4 linked regions of the Homo sapiens genome follow. The protein of the gene in region 2 interacts with the protein of the main gene of each other region in a pairwise test. Each region holds a gene or a part of one and is shown on either strand. Other genes may lie near its edges.

What was found.
Region 1: the proteins of RBFOX2 (region 2) and SPMIP9 interact in binary tests that used the Homo sapiens proteins (3 or more experiments, as listed by UniProt).
Region 3: the proteins of RBFOX2 (region 2) and C1orf94 interact in binary tests that used the Homo sapiens proteins (3 or more experiments, as listed by UniProt).
Region 4: the proteins of RBFOX2 (region 2) and HNRNPH1 interact in binary tests that used the Homo sapiens proteins (3 or more experiments, as listed by UniProt).

The regions. Positions count from the first base shown.
Region 1 is NC_000002.12:88,520,012-88,527,648, reverse strand, and holds the start of SPMIP9 (protein SPMIP9), read right to left. Parts: upstream 3,001-7,637; 5' UTR 2,867-3,000; exon of another isoform or gene 2,843-2,866; intron 2,240-2,842; exon of another isoform or gene 2,150-2,239; intron 2,015-2,149; 5' UTR 2,005-2,014; coding exon 1,978-2,004; intron 1,245-1,977; coding exon 1,152-1,244; intron 1-1,151. UniProt on the Homo sapiens protein: Microtubule inner protein (MIP) part of the dynein-decorated doublet microtubules (DMTs) in flagella axoneme.
Region 2 is NC_000022.11:36,025,798-36,033,287, forward strand, and holds the start of RBFOX2 (RNA binding protein fox-1 homolog 2), read right to left. Parts: upstream 3,028-7,490; 5' UTR 2,629-3,027; coding exon 2,443-2,628; intron 1,287-2,442; exon of another isoform or gene 1,267-1,286; coding exon of another isoform or gene 1,255-1,266; intron 1-1,254. UniProt on the Homo sapiens protein: RNA-binding protein that regulates alternative splicing events by binding to 5'-UGCAUGU-3' elements. Prevents binding of U2AF2 to the 3'-splice site.
Region 3 is NC_000001.11:34,179,900-34,186,926, reverse strand, and holds part of C1orf94 (uncharacterized protein C1orf94), read right to left. Parts: intron 1-7,027.
Region 4 is NC_000005.10:179,620,665-179,628,277, forward strand, and holds the start of HNRNPH1 (heterogeneous nuclear ribonucleoprotein H), read right to left. Parts: upstream 3,008-7,613; 5' UTR 2,931-3,007; intron 2,738-2,930; exon of another isoform or gene 2,617-2,737; intron 2,524-2,616; exon of another isoform or gene 2,501-2,523; 5' UTR 2,470-2,500; coding exon 2,373-2,469; intron 1,313-2,372; exon of another isoform or gene 1,179-1,312; intron 734-1,178; coding exon 578-733; intron 372-577; coding exon 228-371; intron 1-227. UniProt on the Homo sapiens protein: This protein is a component of the heterogeneous nuclear ribonucleoprotein (hnRNP) complexes which provide the substrate for the processing events that pre-mRNAs undergo before becoming functional, translatable mRNAs in the cytoplasm.

The sequences.
Region 1 (7,637 bases), on a different chromosome or scaffold from region 2:
ACGGTACACTGTGGCATATTCATGCAATGTAATACTATGCAGCAGAAAATGAATAATATGCCATAATGTTTAGCAAAAAGTGACAATTGTGGAAGGGTACAAATCCAATATGTAATAAAGTTCAAAAAGGCAAAACCAAAGAATATATACATATAAGGTAAAATGAGTTTTTAGAAAAACACATAAGGGAATGATTTTTTTGGGGGGGATAGAGTCTCGCCCCACCTCCCAGGTTCAAGCAATTCTCATGTCTCAGCCTTCCACGCAGCTGAAAATACAAGCGTGCACCAACAAGCCAGGCTAATTTTTGTATTTTTTATAGAGACGGGATTTCGCCATGTCAGCCAGGCTGGTCTCGAACTGCTGGCCTCAAACTCCTGGTCTCAAACCCCTGGTCTCAACTCCTGGCCGCCTCTGCCTCCCAAAATGCTGGGATTCCAGGTGTGAGCCACTGTGCCTGGCCTACAAGGGAATGATTAACCACTTCTGGAGATGGGAGGAGGGGTAAGTTTGCGGGTTACCAAGAGGCTACAAGGTACTGCTAATGTTAATGTGCCATGTTTTAAGCGGTCTGTAATGGTTACATCGGTGTTTATCAGTGTAATTTTAACTCTAAATGTGTATTATTTACAATTTTTTGTATGCATGACGTATTTGATGTACATTTGAAAACATACACACATGGCCGGCCACGGTGGCTCACGCCTGTAATTCTAGCACTTTGGGAGGCCGAGGCAGGTGGATCACGAGGTCAGGAGTTCAAGATCAGCCTGGCCAGGATGGTGAAATCCCATCTCTACTAAAAATACAAAAATTAGCTGACGCAGTGGCAGGCACCTGTAATCCCAGCTACTCAGGAAGTTGAGGCAGGAGAATCGCTTGAATCCAGGCAGGCGGCAGAGGTTGTAGTGAGCCGAGATCGCGCCACTGCACTCCAGCCTGGGTGACAGAGTAAGACTCCTTCTCAAAAAGAAAAAAAAAATACACACACATACATGCACATGCACAGAAAAGATCTCTAAGTCATATCTCCTGGCATTGGATATTGTTCTAACAAGGGCCCAAATGTCCACATTTGTAATACAAATGAAGCAACAGAGAGGATTTCAGTAGGCAGTTGATTGAATGACAGGACTTGCGTGCCTTCCTACCTCTTGCGGCGTGACCCTGGAGTATTTGTGCTTCCTGTAGGGCTGATAGTCGACCATGTGGGAGCTTTGGTATATGTCTAAATCCACAGGGTCCTAAAGCACAAGGAGAATATAAAACAAGAGATTCCCTCGTCACTCCTCCACTTAAAGCCATTCAATGGCTTCTTGCTGTTTGTAGGACAAAGGCCGACTTTGGGGCCTGACATTCAGAGCCCAAATGATCTGGCTGTGACCCATTTTTACCATCCCGCCACCTTCCTGCCTTCTCTACTCCAGCCTTACTTCCTCCCACTTGCATGGGCCTGGCATGTGCTCTTTCCTATCTCCTGATGGAAATGCAAGTTGCCCTCCTCACAGACTAGCAAACTCCTACCTATCCTCCAAGACCCAGACTAAATGTCACTTCCCCAAAACATCTCTCCCACCCTTTTATTCTCCACCTCCCAAGAGTTAAACCCTTTCCTTGTTCCTTACAACCCTCCACAACAGCACTTGCAGGGTGTACTGTGATGGATTTAATGAAGTACACTAGAGCAGGTTTAGTGTACTTAGACATCTCTGCAGTCCCAAAGCCCAGGACAGGGCCTGGCACACTGTGGGTGCCTAATAAGTGCATGCTGAGTAAATAACTGAACCCCCAGAAAATTATAAAGAAGAAAACTCAGTTCTCTTCTTCTTCTTGTACCAAAAAAAAAAAAAACCCACAAAACCCAAAACTATCATTACAGAAAGATGAGCTTCTAGAAAGAGCCTGGCCCTTCCAGGGCCTTGCTGAGGCTACCCAACCCTGAGACCGTCACAGGGGACAGAAACCCACATCACTCACCTGTCCCGGGTATTTCACACCTGCCATGGCAAACGACCTAGACACAGACAAGTTGTTTAGCCCTGCTCTGCCACAGACAAGGAAAGTAGCCACTATCTTCAAGCTGTGCCAACCAAGCATGGCTGCCCCAGCTTTCTTAGCCCACTCCTCCCCATCTTCCCTGGGCTCCTACCCTGCATGTCACTCCATCATCAAGGGGTTGGTGGTGATACCAGGGTCCCTGGGACAAAGGGGCTGGAGCAGGACTCAGGAGGAATGAGGGCTGTTTAGAAGATCACATTTACTGATCAGGTTTACTGTTTGAGAGGTATAGCTGATCCTAGGGCAAGTGAAGTGCTGGTAAATGTTTAACAACCATGTTTTCAGGGAAAATAGGCCCTGGGTTTATAGCATCTGCCAATTTCTGTGGTGTAAATGCTCCTATCATGGCTCATTTCAGGCTATCAACATAATGTCATTGGCACTGAGTTGCACAGATATGCACAGGATGGGCTCTTGTGAGCCAGTATGAACTGGCTCCAGCTCACATGTTCCTCTGAACCAGGCCTCAGCACTTCCCCTGGATAGAGGAAGGCCCAGGCCTAGGACTCAGAGCCACCTTGATTCACAGGGGAGTATCCAAGGTGAAGAAAGTTGCAAGACTCTGCATTCCCAGTTGAACAACAGTAGTTTGTAGGCCTAACACTGACCCCTCCCTTCCAGCCCTGAAGTCCTAGCGAGGGCCTCGCTGCACAGACTCCTTGTGTGCGTGGCCCCTAGATCCTTAAGGGGTACTCCACTGCATTCCCAGGGAACCCTCCCCTAAGCCCCACTCTCTTCAGCAGACTGTGGCCCAGCAGGGTGGTGCCCAGACCTCAACCAACACCTGTATCCCCTCCCTTTTGCTCACAGACAGCTTCTCTCCTAGGGCTGGGGACCAGCTGCCACGCAGACAGAGCCTACCGCTTCTTCTGCCAGGGCAAGACGACGCTCCTGCCCTCCCACCTCCAGGTGCCCTTGCCACATGGAGAGTCCTGTTGCTGTGTCCCACTGCCACGCCTGTCTTTGAGTTGAGCCCTGACCTGTATGATGAGGGTCCCTGTCATTGTGAGGTGAGTAGGTGGCTGCTTGGGCTGCCTGCAGGTCAGTTCCCTGTCCCTGGCTCACCAGAGCCAACATGAATCCTGGCAGCACATGAACCAATGCTTTCCGATACTCTACAGAATCTTCCTAGTCCTAGGAGAGGAAGGTAAATAGAGCCCATGTGGTTTACAACATCAGACTGTGTGTGACTAAATCCACTTCACACCACAGACTGCCACCCAGGCCTCTGCTGCCTGAAAGCCTGGCTCAAAATTGTCAAAATGTCACTTTTTGACATTCATAGTGTGTGGCTACAATAAAAAAAAAATACAGAAACAAGCGTTGATGAGGATGTGGAGAAATTCCACTTCTAGTTATAAATAAAAAAGAATTGAAAGCAAGGGCTCAAATGGATACCTGTACACCAACGTTCACAACAGCATGGTTCACAATAGTCAAAAGGTAGAAACAACTTACATGTCCTTCAGAGATGAATGGATTTGGTATCTACGTACAATGGAATATTATTCAGCCTTAAAAGGGAGGCCAGGCACGGTGGCTCACGCTGGTAATCCCAGCAACTTGGGAGGCCGAGGCAGGCAGTTTGCCTGAGGTCAGAAGTTCCAGACCAGCCTGACTAACATGGTGAAACCCCGTCTCTACTAAAAATACAAAAATTAGCCGGGTGTGGTGGTGCACGCCTGTAGTCCCAGCTACTCGGGAGGCTGAGGCAGAAGAATTGCTTCAACTCGGGAGGCAGAGGTTGCAGTGAGCCGAGATCACACCACTGCACTCCAGCCTGTGTAACAGAGCGACACTCTGTCTCAAAACAAAATTAAAAAAAAAAAAAAAAAGGGAAGGCAATTCTGACACGTGCTACAGCATGGATAAACCTTGAGGACATTATGCTAAGCAAAATAAAGCAAAATAAGCCGGTCACAAAAAGAAAAATGCTGCATGATTCCACTTCTGCGAGGTACCTAGAGAAGTACAATTCATAGAGACAGAAAGTAGAATGATAGTTGCCAGAGACTGAGGAGAGGAATGGGGAGTTACTGTTTAATGGATATGAAGTTTCTGTTTCAGAATATTAAAAAAAGTTCTGGGAATGGATGGTGGTGATGGTTGCCCATTGTGAATGTACTTAATGCCACTGAATTATTCACTTAAAAGTGACTAAAATGATAAACTTTGTTATATATATGAAATTGTATATATATTTGTATTTTATATATTTTATGTAATTATATACAAATATGTATATTTAATTTTATATATAATATTAAACATATATGTTACATATATTATATATATAATTTTAATAATCCACCTTCTTTAAGGGACACCTCCTCTATAAAGCTTTCCTTTATCTCACTAGGTGCCACCATAGACTCATTTATCCAACCAATATTTACTGAGCACTTCTTTTGTGTTTGGGCATTGTTCTGAACTTTATAGATTCAAGAACAAAAATAGATGGAAATCTCTGCTTACATTCTGGTGAGATGAAAACACAGAGCAAACACAATAATAAGCAGGTCACCCTCCCTTAGATAGAGCAAATAAGCCAGGCGATGCACAAGAGGATGACTAGTGGGCACTTCAGATGGGAGGTCCAAGGAGGTCTCTCTGAGAGGGTGATGTTATAGTAGAGATCTGAAGCATGGGAAAGAACCAGCCATGCAAAGATCTGAGAATAAGGGGTTCTAGACACAGCAATCAGCTAGTGCAAAGCCTAAAGGCAGGAACCACTGAGAACAAGAATCACCAGCCATGTGCCTAGAAAGGAGTGAATGATGGGCAAGGTCAAGAGATTGAGTTGGCTGGGAATCTCTGGCATTCCTCTTCTTTAATGGAATGCCAACTTCCCCTCAGATAATTATTTCCTGCCTTTCTTTGAGTGTGTCCACAGAATTAATGTGTTAGAAATTTGGTCCCCAGCATGGCAGTGTTGGGAGGTGAGGCCTTTAAGATTTGATGAGGTGGTTAAGAGGGATTAATGCCACTCTCTTGGGACTGCGCTAATTCTCACCATAGTGAGTGAGTTATCACTCTCTCAGGACTGGATTAGTTAACCCAAGAGCCAGTTGTTGTAAAGTGAGGCCGCCCCTCATGTTTCGCCACTTTTGCGTGTACTCGCTTGCCCTCCCACTTTTGTACCACGTTATGATACAGTATGAAAAGGCCTTGCCAGAAGCTGCTGTCATGCCCTTGAACTTCCTAACCTCCAAAACTGTGAGCCAAATAAACTTCTGGGTTTTGTTGTTGTTGTTGTTTATTGAGATGGAGTCTTGCTCTGTTGCCCAGGCTGAAGTGTGCAGTGACGTGATCTTAGTTCACTGCAACCTCCACCTCTTGGGTTCAAGCAATCCTCCCACCTCAGCCTCCTGAGTAACTAGGAGTATTGGCATGCACCACCATGCCGAAGTAACTTTTTTTGTATTTTTAGTAGAGATAAGGTTTCACCACATTGGCCAGGCTGGTCTGGAACTCCTGAACTCAAGTCATCTGCCCGCCTCGGCCTCCCAAAGTGCTAGGATTACAGGCGTGAGCCACCAGGCCCAGCCTTAAACTTTTTTTTTTTTTTTTTTTTTTTTTTTTTTTTACAAATTATCTAGTCTGTGGTATTCTGTTACAGCAACAAAAAATGAACTAAGACACTCCCCTTTGGGGATCACATGGCATGGGTGGTGCTGATCCTACTCCAACTCTAAATGGGCATGTTGCCACCAGAACATTCCACTCTCTAGGCCACAGTGATTGATTCAGGGGGAGGCTCATGATCCAAGCTGGACTGATGAGTGCCATCCCTAGCTCTTGGGAAGGAAGAGCTGAAACAGCAGGCACTAAGAACCATGTGAGCCTGAGGCTGCCTGAAGCCACTGTGTAGAGAAAGCCAGGCCAATAATAAAATCAGCACAAAGACAAGACTATCCCAGAGATAGAAACAGCAACAGCATTTTGACTAACACTGAGCCCCTGGATATAACCATGCCTGAAGCAAGCTTGATCTACATCTACACTTCGCAGTTTATGTGAGCCAGTACATTCCTTTTCTTGCTAAAGCCAATTTCAGTTGAGTTTCTGTAACTGCCAGCTGAAACAATACCTACAAATTCAAGGTTGGAGTGCTCACATAGTTATTTCTCCTAACTAACTGTGGGATTCTTGAGGGAAAGAGCTGGATCTTACTTTTTATTCCTCAGTGCACCAACACTTAAGCATGGGGATTTAAGAAGTGCTTGTGAATTAAATAAAACTGAAAGAGATGGCAAAGGCTAAGGCAAAGAACAGAGTGGCCACAGGGATAAGAGTGGAGGAGACAGCTGGGGCATAAGTGATTTTTGTGCCCCAAGTATGTATTTTTCAGAAAAATATTACCAAGTACATTTTTGGAGTCCTGAATTCAAATTCTGATACTTGCTATCCTCATGTCTTTGGGTAAATCATCTAAGATTAATAAAAGGCAGTTTGATCATCTGTAAAACAGAGGTAACACCTACCTGAAAAGAGTGTAGGAAGTCAACAGATATGTCTGTGAAAGTGCTTGGTGTTCTTCAAACCAATATTTGCCCCCATATTTTTTGAGTTCCTGCTGTATCTCAGGCATTGTGCAAGGGCCTGGAATTATGGTAACGAAATAAAATAGAAATGGTCTCTGTCCTTACGAAGTTACAGTACGATGGGAGATAAATATGCAAATAATCACACAAGTGAGTCTTTCATTACAATTTTGACAAGTGCCATGAAAAAATGTGGAGTATCGGAGGTTGATCCAGTCTTGGAATCTGGTCAGAGAAAACTTGCCTCAAGTAATGACATTTTAACTCAGTTCTAAAGGGGAAGGAGACTTCTGTTCACTGCCCTAGGGCAGGAAATAGACTTCCCACGTGTAGGAGAGAGCCTGCTCTGCTGCAGCAGAGCCAGGAGGGACAAGGGCAGCTCCAGATGAGGCTGGAGAGGAGATACTACCTCATCACGCACGTATGGGAAGAACTTTGACTTTATCCATTGTAGGCCACTGGATGATGATGATGATGGCTGGGACAGTTGGATGAGATGGCAGTAGATATGGAGAGAAGTGAGTAGGTTCAAGGGACGTTAGGAAAGTAGACCGCATAGGATTTAATCATTATCAGAAAGAGGCAGTGGCAAGACAGAGTAGGGTCAAAAAGATTCCCAGATTTCTCAAATAAGCCATTGGAGCTTGATGGTCCTTTGATGAGGTGGGAAAGGCAGGAGGAGGCATTGGTTTGGGAAGTGCTATGGTTTGAATATTGTCCCCTCCAAAACTCATGTTGAAATTTAATCTATGTGGCAGCATTGAGAGGTGGGGACTTTACAAGGTGACTGGGTCATGAGGGCTCTTCATGAATTAATGAATTAATGGGTTAATGGATTAATGGGTTATCATGGGAGGGCAACTGGTGTCTTTATAAGAAGAAAAGAGACCTGAGCTAGCACGTCAGCATGCTCAGCCCCTCACCAGGTGATGCTCTGCTCTGCTCTGGGACTCTGAAGGGTCCCCACCAGCAAGAAAGCCGTCACCAGATATGGCCCCTTGACCTTGTACTTCACAGCCTTTATAACCATGAGAA
Region 2 (7,490 bases):
GTGGGTGGATTACAAGGGAAATCATCTTGTACACATACTTTATTTTACAACTAAGGAAAACAGAGGCCCCAAAATGAAAGATTTCTGCAGAACCATTCAGCTAGTTGAAGGCAGGGCCTAAATCAATGATTTGAATACCTGTATGACATAGGGGAATGGACCTACAACAATGGGAATGTATAGAAGGCCGGGTGTGGTGGCTCACACCTGTAATCCCAACATTTTGGGAGGCTGAGGTGGGTGAATCACCTGAGGTCAGGAGTTCGAGACCAGCCTGGCCAACCTGGTGAAACCCCCTCTCTACTAAAAATAAGAAAAATTAGCTGGGCATGGTGGCAGACGCCTGTAATCCCATCTACTCAGGAAGCTGAGGCAGGAGAATCCCTTGAACCCAGAGGTGGAGGTGGAGGTGGAGGTTGCAGTGAGCCGAGATCGTGCCATTGCACTCCAGCCTGGGCAAAAAAAAAAAAAAGAGAATGTATAGAAAGAAAATAAAATACAAGAAGTGAAAAAAGGATTCTCGGAGGGATAACTCTCAGCTGCCAATTTGTACCCCCAAGGACCTAACCACTCTTTCCTCTGCACACCCCTGCGAAGTCCCTACACACTGCTCCATTTCCAAATATCACTATCTTTAGCCAGTTTGAAGGCAACCAACAGATAATAGGCCCCAGGAGTAAATGAGGGAAAGGGACGGGGGTCTCACTATTAACTAGGATTGACAGAAATGATAAATGAATACATACACACACACACACACACACACACACACACACCAAGTAGAACCTGCTCACCAGCACCTACATCCAGTCTTCCCTCCTTATCATCCAATATTAGCTCACCTCACCTGAAGTCTCCCACATTCCTGTCTTTTTTGCCATGGCCCTGAGCTTTTACTTCTCACAATCCCTCTGCCTGACAGAGTTCTAATGGAAAATAAAAGCAGGCAAACAAAACAAAAGAATTCAAAAATAAACACCAAGAGGGTCACTTTACCTAAATCAACAGAAGTAACAGGGTAAACTCTGCAAAGGAGACCAAGAAGCATACAACAAACATGCTAGGCTTAAGTACAGCTCTGTCCCTAACACAGGAAGTCAGGCAGAGGCTTGAAAAGCAGGGAGCAGAGCACAGGAAGTCTTTTAGCACTGCAGAGATTTCCAAGAGTGGTGTAATGGAGACAGCACAGGAATAGGAATTAGAAGACCAGGCTTCTAGTTCTAGTTTTACTATTAGCTAACTGGGTGGCCTTACCCAAGTCACCATCTTCTCTGGACTTCTGATTCCCCATCTATAAAATAAGGTGGTTAAAACAAGCTGGGACTTGAATCTCCTCCAAAAAAAACAAAGATGAAAACTATTGACTCTCCTCCACCAAAAAGTGCACATCACCTACTATGAGTAAGAATCTTCCAAGTCTTCCCAGGTTAAGAACCCCTGGAAAAGATGATGTCTAGTCCTCCTAGCATCCCTCTAACATCCTATGACTCCGAGAGAATTAGGCACAAGTCTGCACAACTGTTGGTAGGTGAGACTCATCATGTCATAGCAGTATTTTCTGGGCAAAGACCAAATCGTAAAACCTCCAAAGGTTTCAAGGTCTTCTTCAAAACTATGAAGTCAGCTGACATCAATACCTTTCCCATTCCCTACCCAAATTAACCACGTTTATCTTTCAATCCAGAATTGAGAATCCAGTCTTCTAATAGCCCTATAAAAAAATTTTTTTTATAGCCCGGGACATTAAAGAGCTATTTTGTGTCCTGGTGATGTAGAATGCAATTGGCAAAGAACAGGAGGGACATGTCTAGTGTCTCCCTTCAGACTCATTAGTATGCTCCACAAAGTAAATGAGACTGAGCACCACCGTGTCCCCATAACATTACCAAACTCCTTGTACTTCTCACACTCTGTGTGATTTAACCCACAATCTCAGCCACATCCCCTCGGGGCTCTCTCGAGGAGTTTTCTTTTCACTCCTCTCATTGAAATGCCACTTCTCTTCCCCATCCCAGCGTGTGCCCAGGGCTGCCAAAAGGTACTCCCTCTTCTCGGGAGGTTTCCCACCAGATCTCCTTTTCCTCGACTCAGTCCAGAGAAGCCAGGATTTCCCGGCTTCCACTCCACCCCAAGGCACTAAGGAAGGATTTGAAAAAATGGAATCCATCTCAACCTTGTTCGATTTCCCCCCAAAACCTATCCACTCGTCGTGCCTCCTGGCCCCTCAGGAATCAGGACCCTCTCGGGCACACCAGGTTCAGTCCTGCAACCTTCGTTCCTAGCCCGAGCTCGCCCCACCTTCCAACCAGGCCCCGAATGGCCCCCCATCCCACCTCCAACCCAGGACTCCCGGAGGCCCTCCCTCTCTCCAAGCCGGGGAGCCCGGTGTCGACCCTCACGCCCACCCCCGCAATAACTGGGCGCCCCGTCCCGCGCGGTCACCTGCATCCCGCCGCCACCGTCGGCCGCCGCCTCCTCAGTGCGCGGCCGCTTGCTCAGGCCGGGATCGGCTCCGTCTCCTCCCGCTCCGGGCACCGGCAGCTCCAGCTCCGACTCCCGCTTCATGCCCCGGGCGGCGGCGCCGGGCCCGAGCTGAGGCGGCTGATGCGGCTGGGCGCCCTCCGCCATCCGCCCGCGCCCCCCTCGCCTCCGGGAGCCGGGCGACCCGCGACAGGCCACCTCCCCCTGGGCCTCGGCCCCGACTGTCGCGACAGGCGGGCGCGCGCCTGCCCCCGCCCCCGCGTGCGTGCGTGCGTGCGCGCGAGCGGACTCCGCGCCCCTCCGCGCCTCGCGGCCGCCGCTCCTTGCCTGACCGCTTGCTCCCCGCCCGCCCGCCCGCCGGGTTGTCGGCGCGGGGCCACTGGCGGGTCGTGATGAGCACTCGCTCGCGCCCCCGCACGCACACGCGAAACCCGGCCCGGCCCGCCGCGCCGCCCCGCCTCTCGCACTCCCGGAGCTCGCCCACCGGCCGCGCTGGCTCACACTCTCCCTCACAGCACGCCGGCCGAGGGAGGAAGGGGGCGGTCCGGGCTCCCGAGGCGTGGGGAGGGCTGTTTATTTTGGGGGGAGGAGGGGCGCGAGGCAGGAACGAGCTGACTGGCCGGGATCCTCCGACCCGCCACTGTGGCAGCACCGGGAAGGCGGGGAGAGAGAAAGAGGGAGGGAGGGAGGGACCGGGATGTAGAACTCCAGCCCGCGCGGGAGGCTACGGCGAGGGGGGCGGTGGCGGCCCGCGGGGGGGGCGGGGCCAGGCCCCCTCGGCAATCTCCGTAGTCTCCTCGCTGGCTGCCCGAGGGAGGCCGGGAAGCGATCGGGGAAGCTCGGGAATCTCCGGCACGGGCCTGGGATTGTCCTGGAGGCACAGCGCGGCTGGAGTGCGGGGCAGCGCGGGGGGGGCGGGGTCTGTCTCCTTTCTGGGCGGGGCCGTATCCTGGAGCAGGCGGGGCTTGAGAGACCCGAAGGCCAGGGAGTGGCTCCTGCTTGCGGTACTAGTTGTACAGAGTTAAGTCCTGAGTTTACTCGCCTGAGCACCTTGGTTCCCGGAGAGGGAATGGGCACTCTGTGAGAGGCAGGCTATTTGCCTGCTTCCCCTCCCGCAGAAGAAAAAATGTCTCAAATTGGAAGGTCGAGGAATGAAGCCACCCCTCTATGGTTCACCCCAGTTCTGAGAGCTTTTACTCTAATATAACTCACATTCCTAATGAAGTTAGTAATAATACCCGATGTTTGTAAGAGCTTTAGAGTTTGCACAATGCATCCACAGACCCGTTTCAAACTGGTGATATAAGTAGATACCATGATCTCCATTTCATTGATGATGAAACTGAACCTTAGTTAAATCCTGCAGCAAAAAAGTGGCAGATCCGGAATTCAGAACACGAGAACATATTCTCTTTCTTCGTACCTTGCTGCCTGAGGAGCACTTTATGACTTACCAACTTCGTGGAGATAGAGATATCTGTGCAATAGATTCTCTCCCCTACCAGACTGTGAGGACAAGGACTGCAGTGACTTCCTCTGAGTTCCATATCGTGCCCTGTACGTTATAGAAATAAAAGGATATTGCGTGAATAACCTGGATTCTAATCTTGGCTTTGCTAACTAGCTTAAACAAGTTACTTCATCTCTTTGGACCTCAGCTCCATCATTTGTAAAATGAGATGGTTTGGATCAGTGGCTTTCAACCAAGGAGAAATTTTGCCATTCCACCACCTCCACTCCCACATTTGTCAGTGACTGAAGGCATTTTTTTTTTTTTTTTTTTTTTTTTTTTTGAGACAGAGTCTCGCTCTGTCGCCCAGGCTTAAGTGCAGTGGCGCGATCTCGGCTGACTGCAACCTCTGCCTCCTGGGTTCAAGCGATTCTCCTGCCTCAGCCTCCCCAGTAGCTGGGACTACAGGTGTGCGCCACCAACTAATTTTTGTATTTTTAGTAGAGATGGGGTTTCACCATGTTGGCCAGGCTGGTCTCGAACTCCTGACTTCAGGTGATCCGCCTGCCTCGGCCTCCCAAAGTGCTGAGATTACAGGAGTTAGCTGCCGCGCCTGGCCGACTGAAGGCATTTTTGATTGTTACAGTGGGGAGGTGCTGCTGGCATCTAGTGTGTAGAAGCCAGGAATGTTGCTTGACATCCTATCATGCACAGGACGGTCCCCCCAGGAGAGTTATCCAACCCCAAATGTCAATAGTGCGGAGGTTGAGAAACGCTGGGTTAGATGATTTCCAAGGTCATTTCCAACCAGTGTGTGATTTGGCCTTTGAACCTGGGTTTAACCTGGCTGGGGCTGGAACAGTACAACAGTAAAGATCCCTGCTTCAGAGTCAGACCAACCCAGATGAGAACGCAGGCTTCCCACCTCCTGCCCACGTAATCTGGGACCAGTGGTGACTAAGAACTTCCATATAAAAGGTGTTTGGGGATTGCAGACTGGTTGGAAGGGAAGTCGGGAGGACTTGCCTTGAAGGTGAGTTGTTGTATTGAGCATATTGTTTGTATTACTTAGGCTGTGTTATAAATCAGTAAAAATAGCAGAGTTTTAGCTCTGCCACCTGCAAGTCATGATGCCTTGTGACAGCTACTTACCCCCTCTGTGTCTCAGTTTCTTCATCTGCAAATTAGGATAACAATAATACCTTCCTGAAAAGATTATTGTAAGAATTTAATGTTATCACGTTTAGAACTTTGAACGGAATGATTTAGGATAAGCGCTCCATAAGTGTTACAGCTAACACTTATAGCTAACTAATAATAGCTTATTAGTAGTACCATTATCACTTTATTCACTTTTTTTTTTTCAGATGGAGTCTCGCTCTGTCACCCAGACTGGAGTGCAGTGGTGTGATCTCGGCTCACTGCAACCTCCACCTCCTGGGTTCAAGCAATTCTTGTGCCTCAACTTCCCAAGGAGCTGTGATTACAGGCGCCCACCACCACGCCCGGCTAATTTTTTGTATTTTTAGTAGAGACAGGGTTTCACCATGTTGGCCAGGCTGGTCTCGAACTCCTGACCTCAAGTGATTCCCCCCCTTTGGCCTCCCGAAGTACTGGGATTACAGGCATGAACCACCAGGCCTGACCTTTATTCACATTTTAAATGAGAGTGAAAAAACATTCATTGTCAAGATCAAAGAATATCATTATCATTATTATTGGGTTTTTTTTAATTATGTAAGGTGACTTGAGTGGGGCTGCTAGAGATTCACATGCGGCAAGCAAAGCACCCCAGTAACCCCTTGGTGCAACCACTATGCTGGGCAAATTACTTTGTTTCACTAAGCCTTCCATTCCTCATTTGTAGGATAACAATAATAGTCACAGTGTTGTTCTAAGGATTAAATGGGACAAAAGTAAACACTTAGCACAGTGCCTAACATAGTAACTGCTTAATAGGTGGTAATTATTCATCAACTAATTTGGTTAGTGATACAGTAAGCTTAACCAGGGGCCTTGGAAAGAGAAGCCTTAAACAACTTCTTCTTCTTCTTCTTCTTTCTTCTTTCTTCTTTCTTCTTTCTTCTTTCTTCTTTCTTCTTCTTTCTTCTTCTTCTTCTTCTTTTTTTTGAGACAGGATCTCACTGTCTCCCAGGCTGGAGTGCAGTGGCCCAATCTCAGCTCACTGCAACCCCCGCCTCCCAGATTCAAGCGATTCTCCTGCCTCAGCCTGCCAAGTAGCTGGGATTAGAGTCACGCACCACCATGCCCAGCTAACTTTGTGTATTTTTAGCAGAGACAGGGTTTCACCATGTTGGTCAGGCTGGTCTCAAACTCTTGGCCTCAACTGATCCTCCCGCCTCAGCCTCCCAAAGTGCTGGGATTACAGGCGTGAGCCACCACGCCCAGCCCTGACACATCTCTTAGTATTATTATTTGGACCACCAAGGTGGAAGTCCAAGTGCCTACAAGCTTGTTCTTGTGCTGAATTAGCCCCAACCTAAGTCAGCGGTTTCCACTTGGCAGTACCCCACAACCTGATCCTGTTCAACCAAGCAGTATGGCTTTGAGGGATAACCAGGATATTTCCTGGTGGCCTATGAAACAACAGCGGGTTTTGTCTTTTTTTTTTTTTTCTTTAACCTAGGGACATCAGCAGTTGGTCTTCTGAAATTTTTACTTATTGAACTGGTAGCATAAGAATTCTCCCTTCCCAACTGGGCATGGTGGCTCACACCTGTAATCCCAGCACTTTAGGAGGCCGAAGCGGGCAGATCACTTGAGGTCAGGAGTTCAAGACCAGACTGGGCAAAATGGTGAAACCCCATTTCTACTAAAAATACAAAAAATTTAGCCAGGTGTGGTGACAGCTGCCTGTAATCCCAGCTACTCAAGAGGCTGAGCCAGTAGAATTGCTTGAATCTGGAAGGCAGAGGTTGCAGTGAGCCGATATCGCGCCACTGCATTCCAGCCTGGGCTACAGAGTGAGACTCTCTCTCCAAAAAAAGAGAATTCTCCCTTCCCTGCTTGCCTTGCCAAACTACTGAAATCTTAATGATGTTAGATCTTCCTGGGCTGTCCCCTGACCCAGCAAGAAATGAGATTTGAGATCGGGGCTGCCAGTGACTCAAATTTTTGTTATTCAGGTAACGCTCAAGTCCCTTAGAAACAGAGCAATGCAGTATAGAAATGTCTGAATGACCAGGCAGAACAAAGAAAAATTGGACCCTGCCCTGGAAACAAGCATTATGTATTTAAGGAGAAAGAGGAGAGTTAAACGCCTACAAATCATAGAAGAGGCAAAATGCATCCATGGCAGCACAAAGACCAGATCATTTCTTTTCTTTTTTTTTTCTTTTTTTTTTTTTTTTGAGACAGAGTCTTGCTCCGTTGCGCAGGCTGGAGTGCAGTGGTGCAATCTTGGCTGACTGCAAGCTCCGCCTCTCGGGTTCACGCCGTTCTCCTGCCTCAGCCTCCCGAGTAGCTGGGACTACAGGCGTCTACCACCACACCCGGCTAATTTTTTGTATTTTTAGTAGAGACAGGGTTTCACCATGTT
Region 3 (7,027 bases), on a different chromosome or scaffold from region 2:
ACCAAGTGCCAGGAACTCAGCTGGGCACTGGGGAGACAAAGATGAGTAAGACACAGACCTTGCCCTTAAGAAGCCCATAGTGCAGTAGCGGAAGAGGAATTGTTGCCACAAGGCAGCACACGATATGTGCCAGGTGCCCACCACCTCATCAGAATCCCACACTGGAACTGGGCTGATAGCCCCGATTAAGGGGCTGTGTCCTTCCCTCTGGCCAATGGTCAAGAAGAGAGCTGATTTTAAACAGATTCTTCCATTCTATCGTCCTCAAAAGATCTATCCCATGTAGCTCTCAGAGCTGGGGAAGCATTTGTCTCTTATGATGACCCCTTCTGCTTTCTCTTAGAAGACAATATGAGTTATGAAAACCGAATGCTATGATCTCCCTTTATGCCCTGGCTGCCAAGAATCTCAAACCAGATGCTGTTATCAGTTGAGCAGTTTCCCTTCAGCCTAAGTTTCCTGGCATATATATCTCCTTGTCCCATATCAATCATGTCCTGTTATTTTATCCATGATAATGACAATGATGATGGTGGAATGGTGATGATGATGATGAACATCGAGTCCTTCTCTTATTCCCAGTGCTGTGTGAGCTCTACATATATCATTTCATTTGCTTCCATAGTAATCCCTTGAAATAGTCGCTGTGACTTTTCCCATTTTTTCAGATGAGGAAAATAGGGCACAGAAAGTTTGGGGAACTTGCTTACAGCTAGAAAGTGTGCTGGAACTCTAATCCACCTGTCTCCTTATTTTTTGTTATCTGGGCCACCTTAAAACACTTAGGAAAGAGGTGGGACATAGTTGTTTATTTCAATTAAAAAGAGGAATGTGGGAAAAAGAGAAAGAAAAATGTTGAATGATGTGAGCAACAAAGAATTCAGAGGACAACACACTTATTCTAGGTCCTTAAGGATGGATAAGATTTAGATAGACAGAGATATGGGAGAAGGGCATTCCTGGTAGTGGAATAACATGAGCAAAGGCAAGGTGACATGCACCTGCTGGTAGCTCTTGTTGGTTTATAGAGCATGTGCAGGAGACCAGCAAGACGTGCATCTAGAGATGGAGGCAGGGCCACTACAGAGACCCCTGAAAACCAGGCCCAAGGGGCCAGAGGACAAGGCGAGCCATGAGAGATGTCTGAGCAGTGCTGTTGACCTGCTTCAGAAGATGAAATTGGTGAAGGGTGGAGGGCATCCTGGAGGGAAAGGCACCCAATGCAGTGAGAAGAGATGTGGTGAGGGTGGCAGAGGAGAGACGAGCAGGGAGGCAAGGCACCAAAGGCCATCATGAAGGGGGACTGCCAGGACGTGTGGCAGGCTGGAGGAGGGAAGAGCCAGTGTCTGCCAGCACTAGCTCACTTGACAAACAAGAACAGGGGTGCATCAGTGTCAATGGGACTGGGGTGCTGAGACCCAGCATTGGGAAGCTCAAGAGAGGGAAAGGCTGGGTGCAAGGGCTCACGCCTATAATCCCAGCACTTTGAGAGGCCAAGCCAGGTGGATCACCTGAGATCAGGAGTCCGAGACCAGACTGACTAATATGGTGAAACCCTGTCTCTACTAAAAATACAAAAATTAGCCAGGCATGGAGGTGCATGCCTGTAATCTCAGCTACTTGGGAGGCTGAGGCAGGAGAATTGCTTGAACCCGGGAGGTGGAGGTTGCAGTGAGCCAAGATCGCGCCACTGCACTCCAGCCTGGGTGACAGAGCGAGACTCCATCTAAAAAATAAAAATAAATTTAAAAATAAAGTAAAATAAAGAGAGAGGGAGACACTTGCTTAAGGGTTGGGTCTCAGAGCAAAGGGTTCCAACTTGTGGCCCACGGGGTCTCTGAAATCATTCCCAAATACTGAGAGATGTGAGGATGTGTTTCAGACAAAAGCTGCACAGAAGCTTTTTCTCAGATTTTCAAAGAGGTATTGACCCCTCCAAGAGGAGAAAACACTAGTTGAGATTAGACTCCAAAGATCTTCAGAGCTGGCTTCTAGTCTGAGACATCAGCCTGAGTTTCCGTATCTGAGTCTTGTCTTTATCACTCCCATCACCAGGTTTCAAGCTTTTTAAAGAATAATGCTAAAAAAAAAACCAAAAAAAACAAAAGAGGCTATGTATTCCAAGCAACTTTTCCAGAGAAGTCGGGTTCACCTAATTGTTTAAATAACAGTAGCACAAAGAGATGTTTGTTGGGAGAGCCATTCAAGCAAGGAAGCCGAGTGGATTCCCAAATATCACTTGCTCACCAGTGTGGAGAACTGGCCAATGGAAGCCAACAGTGAAAGTTTACCAAAATAAGTGCAAAAAAGCCTTCTTCCTTCTTGCAACAAATAGCCTCAGAAAGCTGCCAATCAATAAACCACTTCTGTTTTTCAAAAAATGCTTAAACAGATTTCTTTTATTTCAGTAGATTTATCTCCCTACCTGAGTCTGGCTTGGAATAATGCTCACCAAAGCCTTTCCACTCTGCAGACCAAGTTTGTTATGACAGGTAAATGGGAAAGTCTTGGGTGCTGACAGAGGGCCTGGAAGCATCCAGGGAAGCCAACCACACCCAGCAAGCTCGAGCCACCTTCTCCCGGTCACTAACACATGCTACACTTCACTCCCATGTAACTTCTCATCTTTCCCTGCGCCTGCTGCTGGGCTCTTTCCATAGGCTGTTCTTTCTCTCTTCTCAAGACCTAGCTGGGGGACATAACTATGGAAACCTTTGCAGTTATTAATCATGACATCCCTGCTACCTGCGGACTACACCCGCATCTTTCATCACACAGTGCAGGGGTCTCATCTGTTGCTGCTTCAGATTGCTTCCCTCAGAGGAAGACTTCCCTAAGTACCAAGCCCAGTCCAGTAGTCAAGTACAATGTTCAGTCATGTGTCCCCTCAGTGCGCTTCCATGGCACTGGCACTTCATCACCAGAACACTTACTATAGTGTGTTGTGATCTGCCTTTTGCAAGATGTTGAAAGTTCATAAAGGAGGTCAGAGACTGTCCCCAGCTTTTCCACCATTGTATTTTTTTCAGACATTTCAGTAATAGGTGCATACTAATTTTTTTTTTTTTTTGAGACGGAGTTTTGCTCTTGTTACCCAGACTGGAGTGCAATGGCACAATCTCGGCTCACTGCAACCTCTGCCTCCTGGGTTCAATCAATTCTTCTGCCTCAGCCTCCTGAGTAGCTGGGATTATAGGCACCTGCCACCACGCTCAGCTGATTTTTGTATTTTTAGTAGAGACAGGGTTTTACCATGTTAGCCAGGCTGATCTCAAAACTCCTGACCTCAAGTGATCCACCCACCTCGGCCTCCCAAAGTGCTGGGATTATAGGCATAAGCCACCGCACCTGGCAATATTTGTTGAATGTCATTGTTGTCAGATGTATCTGTGTTCATGCCACCCACTAGACTGGGAGCTCTTTGAGGAAAGGCTTCTGTTCTGCTTATCTCTGTGTCCCTGGGACCCATCATACAGCCTGGTACTGCGAAGGCAATTGTGTTTGTTGAATGAATTCATGAATGAAGAAATGAACAAATGTCATTCTGTAGTTAGGGCAACGGAGTCAACAGCAAATCCAAAGACCTCATTCTGAGGCTTTGAAGTTTTAGAGATTAGGGGAATGAATGAATAAGTAATCCTTGAATAAGTGGCTTGCCACAATTCTCTAAGCCCAAACTTAAGACTAACTAAAAGATAACTGAACCAGATTTTGGAGTTAAATCAGCACTAGACAGAACTATTGATTTCTCCCCCAAAACCCATTGCTCCCCATTTCTTCCCCACCTTTGTAAATGGCACACCGTCCAACCAGGGGCTCAAGCTTGGAATACATAGCCTCTTTTATTATCATTATTATTTTGAAAGCTTGAAACTTGGTGATGGGAGTGATAAAGACAAGACTCAGACATGGAACTCAGGCTGATGTCTTAGACTAGAAACCAGCTCTGGAGATCTTTGGAGTCTAATGCTCTTGGCTAGTGTTTTCTCCTCTTGGAGGGGTCAACACCTCTTTGAAAATCTGAGGAAAGCTTCTCTACACCCTTTTGCCGGAAAGACATCCTCCCAGCTCTCAGCATTTGGGGAATTACTTCAGAGACCCCATGGGCCACAGGTTGGAATCCTTTGCTCTGAGGCCCTACACTCCCCACCTTGAGTTTGCCAGTGTTCGGTCTCAACACCCCAGTCACATTGATAGTGATGCATGCCCCCATCCTTGTTTGTCAAGTGAACTCGTGCGTGAAGCAGAGCATGAGCCTCAATGTGTCTGTTTGTGTACCCAAATCATGAGTAGGTCCATTGGCTCATCTTAAAACACACAGTTGAATCCTCCACTTTTTCCATCCCTACTGCAGTCACTCCTACCCAGCCACTGCCACCATTAGGCCTCCCCTGGACTCTGACAGTATCTTCCCAGAGGCCTCCCACTTCCTCTCCCACACACTTACAAACCATCTCCACACAGAAGCTGGACAGAGATTCAAACATTAGTGAATCTGTTCATGTCACACCCCTTCCTAAAAACCTGCAAAAGTGTTCCATAACATGTGGAATAAAATCTGAACTCCCCGCAGTGATCCTCCAGGCCTCCTGAGGCCTTGCCTGCCTGTCTCTGTTATACTTATACCATGGCCATGTCCCCATCCCTCCTGACTCTCCCGTCTCGCTGTCCCTCTCAAAGCTCACTCCCACCTCACAGTCTTTGCATTTGCTTTTCCTTTTGGTTTTGTTTTGAGACAGGGTCTCACTCTGTCGCCCAGGCTGGAGTGCAGTAGTGCAATCTTGGCTCATTGCAGCCTCGACTTTCCTGAGCTCAAGTGTTCCTTTCGCTTCACCCTCCCGAGTAGCTAGAACTACAGGTGTGTGCCACCATGCCCAGCTAATTTTTGTATTTTTTGTAGAGATGAGGTCTTGCCATGTTGCCCAGGCTGGTCTTGAACTCCTGGGCTCAAGCGTTCTGCCCACCTCAGCCTCCCAAAGTGTTGGGATTGCAGGCTTTAGCCACCATGCCTGGCCCTTGCTCTCCATTTTGCCCAAATGTTCTTTCCAGAACTTCCCTTGACTGGCTCCTTCTTAGAACCCAGGTCTCAGCCCAGATAATCACATCTCCTCAGAGAAGCCTTCCTTGACACCCAGACTAAAGGAGCTCTTCCTATCACTTCCCTCTGCTCTATTTCCATTATCACAGTTGTCACTGAAATTATCTTGTTTATTTTTGTGTGTTTCTTATGGGTCTCCTCCACTGGGAATACCATTCTTTTCACATTCTGAAGATATCATAGCTTTTGTATTTACTTGCTTCTTTTTTCTCCTATACTAGAATGTGAGCTCTAGGAAGGCAGGGATTAATGGAGTTCACAGCTCCATCCCCCTAGTTTCTCACACAGTTCTAGCATATAGTAGATGTTTAATAAATATCTGTTGAATGAATAATTGAATGAATGAATTAAGAGATTGAAAATGTGTCCACAGAGTGAAAGTCGACTTGGGGAAAAAAGTGAGTGTAGTATTGGTTGTCATTAACAGGAAACAGAATGCAGACAGGGAGGATCAAATCTGCATGGATTGGATCACCCCTGGATTATTGTACTTGGCTTTCAAAGTTACACTGCCACAAGGACCAACAGTGTGGACAGGAAACTAACCAAATTGGCACATGGGGAGAAACTTAGAAAACCAGAGGTGGTTAGCTTATAGAGACAAAAACATTCTGGGAGGAATATTGTTGCTGTCTTGCTGTCTTTCACTATCCAAAGGGGTATCGAAAGAAAAAAGACATAGATTTGGCTTGGAGTACTAAGGGCAGAATCCAGATCAATGGGAATTAGTTTGATAGAGACATATTTCAGTGATAGAAAGCAAAAGGTATTTTGAGGGGGTTCATAGCAAGGGAAGGGGCAGCAAAGGGAAGTGGTAAGCTCCCCATCTGATAAACTGTACCAAGTGGTACAAGTGCACCACTTGGCAGGGACAGTAAGGAGGGGATTCGAGCAGCGGAAGATGGCTTCAAAAATCTCTTTCAAATTTGAAATGTCTAGGTTCCTATGATAAATAGGTGCAGAGTCAAGAAAAACAAATTCTGGCCAAAAAGAATTGTAGAATGCACTTACCTATCTACCACAATACAAGAAAACACCACCAAAACCAGGTCTACAAATTAAGCAGCAGAAAGACCAGCTGAGAGATATCTTGTGCACCTGAAGGCATTCTAGAAATAGTAAGAACAGCTCCCTGGCTTTTCACTCTGTGTGTGATCATTCAGTATATGGGACTCCCAACTATTTTGACTATTCAAAGATGCCCCAGATTCTAAGACAGGACAGCCGACATTATTGCCTCAGGGCCAAGGCGGTCTTGGGTTTCATTTCTGAAACTCTACTACTTCCTAACTGTAGGAGCTTGGGCAAAGAAATTAACCCCTCCAAACCTCAGCCACGTTATCTGTAAAAGTAATTTCACTTATAAATGGAGGGGTGGAGGTAGCAATTGAAACCAGAATGGCACAATGTGATAATTATTGAAACTCAGTGATAGACACATAGATATTCACCATATTATTATTCTATGTGTTTGAAAATTTGCATAATAAAAAGTAAAAAGAGATGGAAAGTTTAAAAGAGTACCTACCTCATGCAATAATTGTAGAGCTTAAAGAAATGATCACATCTGAATTGCAAGGAATTTTTACAAATCTGAATTATTACCATAAATGTTTAAATATCCCATTTAATCATTCCAACAACCCTACAAAATGTATAGTATTAATCTCCATTTGGCAGATGAGGAAACCAAAGTTTAGATAAATTAAAGAGTAACAAATTCTTCAAATGGCATGGGGCTGAAATGGAATCTGAAACCAGAGTTATCTGACTCCACCAGCACACCGCCTTTATTTTAAGAATAGCTCATTGTGTTCTATTTGGTTGACAATTAGGATGTCGTTTATTCGTCTAAGTCATTGGTTTCCTATCTCTTTTCTCAATAGCAGAAACATGTTTTTCAAATTCAGCCCTACTCAGAACTCTAGT
Region 4 (7,613 bases), on a different chromosome or scaffold from region 2:
TCTGAACTATAATACTAAATATAGGCAAAGTTAACATTTTGGAAGTACTTCATTTCCACCTTTAAGATGGGCTTAAATTATTTGAAGGTCTCTAGGAAGAAAACATTAATTCATTGGCAATTTACAACCTACTGAAATACCTAAGCTACTCAACTTTAACGTCTATTAAATCACCTTGCCATAAGCTAGCCAAAACTCACTGCTCAGCAACAAACATGACTACATACCTGAGAAGAACTGAACAATTTCTTCCTTGCTACATCCAAAGGGAAGTCCTCTAAGCCGTACAAAGCCATCATTGGCCGTGTCAGGACTATTTGGACCAGTATGCTTCAACACCCAATCCATTTCAACGTTGTTTGACTTGAATACTGAAAGAGGTGCTTAGAATTAGTCACTTTTGGAAAATTAGATAACAAAGTTCAGACTTCCTGGGTCTTTAGATAAGCTAGGAAGAGCTGCCACAAACTCCCTTAGATGACCATTTCCATGCAGTCAAATACCTAAAATTCAGAAGGGGTGAGACCTCTATTGTTTAATGCTTTATTTACTGTAACTAGGGCAATGTAAATCAAACCTTCAACATATCTGTGTCCCATAGTTTCTCTGTCTTTTTTCAGGGCCAATTTGACTTCATCTTCTGATTCAAGTTCAACAAAAGCCTCGCCACTTGGTCTGCCTTCTCTGGTGTAGATGAAACGAATACCTTGAGCCCCATTTTGAATTTTGCAGTCTGGAAAGAAAACAACCGTTAATACAGAATTTAAAACCTAAAACCACCTCTGGGTGACACAGATGAAATGTCTATTCCATGTCCCCACTACAAATTACATAACTTGTGAAGCCTATATATACTGACCACGATATTACCAACTCCTAAAACTCCAATTAAAAAAAAACAAACTCATTCCTAAGGTGATATATTTCCAACCCATCAACAACATACAATATTCAAAGCAGTTTCAGAATGAATTTATCTCTTTAGTCCTTGCTACTCATGTCTACATCACACATCTTTTATCAATTTCTCAGAAGATTATCAAGCCTGGACTGTGTGACTTTACGGCAAACATACTTCGTTGCGAGCTGTTTTGGTCTGGGGCATTTATCCGTTTTACCTTACCAGTAGCCACATTACGGTTTCTCATTCAAATTCAAATTACAAGCCCAATACTCACCTGAAAGGGGATCAGTGTTACCAAGCTAAAATGCTCCAAGTTGCACAGCTGAAGCCAAACCCAGTGTTGCCCCCTGCAAGGCGGCTTCCAGCGTACTTGGTTCTTGTTTTACAGGTCGCTTTCCGTTACCAACGCTAAATTCAGATAGTAAGTCAATACTACAAACGTCTTGCCAAAAGCTGTTAATTTCATCCAAATAGAATTTTAATCAGTCTAATTTCTTTTTCCCAGTCTAATAATAGGAACAAGGACATTCTGATAGAAAATATTCAGGAAACCTATGTACTGCAAAAACACTTCCCTGGGCTTCAGTGTCTTCAACTGTATAGTGAGCCAGATTAAGAACTAGATAAGAAAACACTCTTCAATTATCAAATCTTGATTAGGAAAACTGAAATTAAGACGTGACATTTTAACTTTCCGAAGAATGCTCCTTTTTAAGAAAACACCAAAACTGGAAACAAGAGGTTACACTTCAAGATATTGCAAAACATTACTATTATTTGTCTAATCACTCGGCCATTTTCTCAAGATTGAGGAGGAAATCCCACCTATGCCAATTTATCCTTTCGAAAAAAGACACCCGGGCCAGGCGCGGTGGCTCACGCCTGTAATCCCAGCATTTTGGGAAACCGAGGTGGGCGGATCACTTGAGGTCAGATGTTCGAGACCAGCCTGGCCAAAATAGTGAAACCCCGTCTCTACTAAAAATACAAAAATTAGCCGGGCGTGGCGGTGCGCGCCTCTAGTCCCAGACACTCGGGAGACTGAGGCAGGAGAATCGCTTGAACCCAGGAGGCGGAGGTTGCAGTGAGCCGAGAACGCGCCACTGCACTCCAGCTTGGGTGACAGAGACTCCAACTCAAAAGAAAAAGAAAAAAAGACACCCATAAAAGAAAAGCTGGTGTTCAAAGATAGGTAAAGAAAACAAAGTCTGCCAAACCTGCCGCACTCCCCCAAGGGCCAGGAGGACGGGCGGGGCTTTCGAAATTTCCATTGCGTAACAGCGGGCCGCCGGGCGCGAGCAGCACAGCGGTGAGTGTAGTCGCCCGCGCCTCGCCAGGGGGCGCCCCGGGTCCCACCCGGCCCGGCCCGGCCCGGCCCGCCCCGCCCCGCCCCGCCCCAGCCCGGCCGCCCGCCAGCCCGCCCGCCCCGGCCTCGAACTCGAACTCCCGCGTCCTAGTTCTAACTCACCAGAAAAAAACCTCTGCACTTCATCGGCCGAGCAAGACCAGGGCAAGCCCCGGACCTTCACCACGAATCCCTCTCCACCTTCCGTGCCCAACATCATCGTCTCTTACGCGGTCCGGCGTCGAAACAAACTGCAAAGCGGGGAGGACCAGAACTGAGAGCGCCAATTAAGCTGTCCTTCGCCTCCGAGGCGCGCCCGGGCCCGCACCGCCCCCCCACGGAGCAAAAACCGGGCGGATGCACCCACCCCGGCGACTCCAACACCTCCTCGTCCGGCGACCGGACCCCCAAAGCTGTCCTGAGCAACAGCTGTCGGCGCCCCGAACCGTGGGGGCCCGGGCCGAGAGCCAGCGTAGAGGAAAGGAAATGGCGGCGGCCGCTTCCGCTCCGCCTCCTCCGACTTCTCACACAATAGAGTCGGCGCGGCCTGCAGGCCTCAGCGGCGGTGCCGAGATTCAGCGAACCACTCGCGGCTCTCGACGGCAGCCTGCAGCTCGCCAAGGTCCCCGTGGCCCTCCCAGAGATATGGGGACAAACAATCCTCGCAAAAACGGTACCCACCGTGGTCGCTGAACTGCAAGCGAGGACCCACCGCGACTCACCTAGACACGCGACTTCTGCGTGGCTAAGACGAAATGGCCAGCGGGCGCCTGCGCAACCTAAATAAGGTCCCTTGTGCGAGTTCTGCGCACGCGCAGCCAGCTGCCCGCACCGCCCCGTTGCGTCACAAAGAGCTCTGGCGCATGCGTAATTTCAAGAGCCAGCCCACCTCCCGCCGGCGGATTATTACACGCTTGGGTTTTGGGCTCAGCACCCCCACCCATAAACCCGCCGGGCTTTTTGTTGCGCCTGCGCCTTCCCGCGAATATTGAACTTCGGAGTCCTAGCGGTTTATAATTATTTCATGCGCATGCGTCTTCCTTGAAACCGTTCTCTAGCCTTACCCGCCAGCGTGGGGGAGGGGAATGGCGGCCGCCTGTTCCCTATGGGACTGTATAGGAGTCCCGAGCTCTGGGTTGTGATGAGGTGGGCGTCTTTCTACCCCTTGCCCCCAGGCTCTTACCGGCGCGCTCCTGGCCGACCTGAAAGGAGGGGCGCGGCCTTCAGGCGTTCCCACTCCCCGCGCCGCCTGTCTTCCCTTTATCCCCAAACCGGCCGAAGCTGGTCAGCTGCAGATTGTCGAACGTCCTGGGAGCTGCGGGGCTGCGGACGTCCCGCGCCCGAAGCCACCCGTATGGTGCCTGGGGCACGTCCCAGCCCTGTGTGCCTCCACTTCCCCTTACCTGCCGTCGTCGGGCCTAGGGCCCCGGTCGGCGCGAGGTTTCCGTGCCTGTGGCTCGCGCCTGTACCCAGCTTTTGCCTAACGAATTCGCACCCTGTGTACCCCTTGACCCGCCTAACGGTCGGCAGGCCTTGACTGCCCTGGGGCCCTGGCACGAGGAGGGATCGCGAGCGCGGGCTCCACGGGTGCGCGCCGGCCTCTGCGCTCGGTAGGTTACCGCTGCATCTCCCAGAGCAGAATTGGTAAGAGTGCGTCCATTCACCAGGCGTAGACGCTGCATTCGAGGAGGCCCCCGGGTCACCCCATGTGCACACATGCTGCGAGATGACTAATGTTCGTGGTTTCTAGCAGCACTGCCCAAAACCTAAGATGCCGTAGCCTCCCAGGCCTCCCCATGTCTGATTTGGCTGCCTTCCTCACCCCAGCTTTAGTGGACACAGACAATACACAAATTAACAATAAGGTAGTGCTGGACCCTGCCGCAGAGCTACCTTAGCTAGTGCAAGCCTGAGTGCCACCCTGGGAAGATGCGGACAAAGCATGTTTCCAACCCCAGTGCCACAGAGTCCGAATCCAGTTTTGACAGGTTTGAGAAAAAGTAGAGAGGACATCAAAAGAAAGACAGGAGCCCAGAGCTAAGCAGGGCCTGATCTTCAAAGGCCACTTAGGCCTTGGCAAGGGTGTTATCTCCGAGAGAAGGCTTTGGCAGGTGATCAGCAGGGGAGCCGTAAACCCTGTGTAAAGGAAAACTCTTGCTGGATGTGAGGGGGATGCAGATGGAGCAGGCAGGGTGAATGACGGTACATACCAGGCCCTCTACTACAAACTGAACTAGAAGCACACACCTGTGGTACCATTTCAGAAGGCACTTTGGCTGAGGTAATCAAGAAGAGAGTCCGGCCAGGTGCGGTGGCTCACTCGTGTAATACCAGCATTTTGGGAGGCCGAGGCAGGCAGATCACTTGAGATCAGGAGTTTCAGACCAGCTTGGCCAACATGGTGAAACCCCATCTCTACTAAAGATACAAAAATTATCTATGCATGCACACGCCTGTAATCCCAGCTACTCTGGAGGCTGAGGCAGGAGAATCACCTGAACCCAGGAGGCAGAGGAAGCAGTGAGCTGAGATCACACCACTGCCCTCCAGCCTGGGCTACAAAGACTCCCTCTCAAAAAAAAAAAAAAAAAAAAATTAGCCAGGCATGGTGATGCATGCCTGTAATCCCAACCACTTGGCAAGACTGAGGCAGGAGAATCACTTAAACCCAGGAGGCAGCAGTTGCAGTCAGCTGAGATCACGCCATTGCACTCCAGCCTGGGCAATAAGAGCAAAACTCCGTCTCAAAAAAAAAAAAAAAAAGAATAGTAGTAAGGTAGAATACATTTCATACACTTATAGCCAATTCTCTTATATATAAATTGTCCAACTTATATTAAAACAAGGTTTTTAAATTTTTATTTTTTATTTGTTTGTTTGAGACACAGCCCGTCACCCAGGCTGGAGTGCAGTGGTGCAAACATGGCTCACCACAGCCTCTACCTTCTGGGCTCAAACAATCCTCCTGCCTCAGCCTCCTGAGTAGGTAGGACCACAGGCATGTGCCACCTTGCTCAGATTATTTATTTATTTATTTATTTATTTATTTATTTTTTGTAGCAATGGGGTCTCATTTTGTTGCCCAGGCTGGTCTTGAATTCTTGGGCTCAAGGAATCATTCCACCTCAGCCTCGCAGAGAAAGTGCTGGGATTACAGGTGTGAGCCACCATGGCTGGCAATGAAAGGTTTTTTTGTTTGGTTTTGTTTTTGAGACAGTCTAACTCTGTCACCCAGGCTGGAGTACAGTGGTGCAATCTTGGCTCACTGCAACCTCTGCCTCCTAGGTTCAAGCAATTCTCATGCCTTAGCCTCCCAAGTAGAGGGATTACAGGTGTGTGCCACCACACCTGGCTACTTTTTTTTAAGTTTTAGTTGAGATGGGGTTTTGCCATGTTGGCCAGGCTGGTCTGGAACTCCTGACCTCAAGTGATCTGCCTGCCTCGGCCTCCCAAAGTACTGAGATTACAAGCATGAGCCACCATGCTCGGCCAAAGGTTTTTTTAAATAAAAAGTTAATCATCAGCCCACGCGTGGGGCTCATGCCTGTAATCCCAGCACTTTGGGAGGCCGAGGCAGGTGGATCAAGAGTTCAGGAGTTAGAGACCAGCCTGACCAACATGGTGAAACCCCGTCTCTACTAAAAATACAAAAAGTAGCCGGGCATGGTGTCGCGTGCCTGTAATCCCAGCTACTCAGGAGGCTGAGGCAGGAGAATCACTTGAACCTGGGAGGTGGAGGTTGCAGTGAGCAGAGATTGCACCACTGCACTCCTGCCTGGGCAACAGAGCAGGACTCTGTCTTTAAAAAAAAAAAAAAAAATTCATCATCTTGCCTCAGTGGTCTTTATGTCTTGGTATACTTCTTTTTTTTTTTTTTTTTGAGACGGAGTCTCGCTCTGTCGCCCAGGCTGGAGTACAATGGCGCGATCTCCGCTCACTGCAAGCTCCGCCTCCCAGGTTCACACCATTCTCCTGCCTCAGCCTCCCGAGTAGAGTAGCTGGGACGACAGGCGCCCGCCACCACGCCCAGCTAATTTTCTTGTATTTTTACTAGAGACGGGGTTTCACCGTGTTAGCCAGGATGGTCTCGATCTCCTAACCTCATGATCCGCCCACCTCGGGCTCCCAAAGTGCTGGGATTATAGGTGTGAGCCACTGCGCCCGGCTAATGTCTTCGTATACTTCTTACAGTTTACAGAGCTCTTTATTAAGGCTGTTAGCCCTTAGGATAGTTGCCCCAGACATTCTTCTCAGTTTGCTTACCTTTTAATTATTTTTGTGGTTTTGTGGTGGTATTTTTTGTTTGTTTTACAGACAATGTCTTGTTCCGTGCAGTGACACAATCATAACTCACTGCAGCCTTGAACTCCTGGGCTCAAGCCATCCTCCAAGCTCAGCCTCCTGAGTAGCTGGGACTAAAGGCACTTTCAACCAGGCCCGACTAATTTTTTTTTTTTTTGTAGTGATGGGGGTCTCACTATGTTGCCCAGGCTAGTCTTGAATTCCTGGCGTCAAGCAATTCTCCCACCTTGGCCTCTCAAAGCCCTGGGATTATTCTACATGTGAGCCATGATGCTCGGCCCTGATTTATGCCTTTTTTTTTTTTAAGACAGGGTCTCACTTCGTCACTCAGGTTGGAGTGCAGGTATGTGATCTCGGCTCACTGCAACCTCCACCTCCCGGGTTCAAGCAATTCTTGTGCCTCAATCTCCCAAATTGCTGGGATATGCCAGGTGCAATGGCTCACACTTGTAATCCCAGCACTTTGGGAGGCTGAGGTGGGTGGATAACTTGATGTCAGGAGTTTCAGACATGTTGGCCAACATGGTGAAACCCTGTCTCTACCAAAAATACAAAAATTAGCCGGGCATGGTGGTGGGCGCCTGTAATCCCAGCTACTTGGGAGGCTGAGGCAGGAGAATCACTTGAACCCAGGATGTGGAGGTTGCAGTGAGCAGAGATCCTGCCACTGTACTCCAGCCTGGGCAACAGAGGGAGATTCCATTGCAAAAAAAAAAAAAGGAAAAAAATACCAAATAGCTGTGATTACAGGCATGCACCATCACACCCGGCTAATTTTTGTATTTTTAGTAGAGATGGGGTTTCACCATGTTGGCCAGGTTGATCTGGAACTCCGAACCTCAAGTGATCCATCCACCTTAGCCTCCCAAAGTGCTGTGATTACAGGTGTGAGCCACTGCACCCGGCCTATGATTGCTTTTTAATATTTGGACATATAGAAGTTTTAAATTTCTTGATGTCAAAGCCATGGATATGTTCCTTTGAGGTTTGTCTTTAAGTTTAGAAAGCCCTTTCCCATCCAGAGATTGAGCACATATTTGTTATCTTTAGTATCATTTGTAA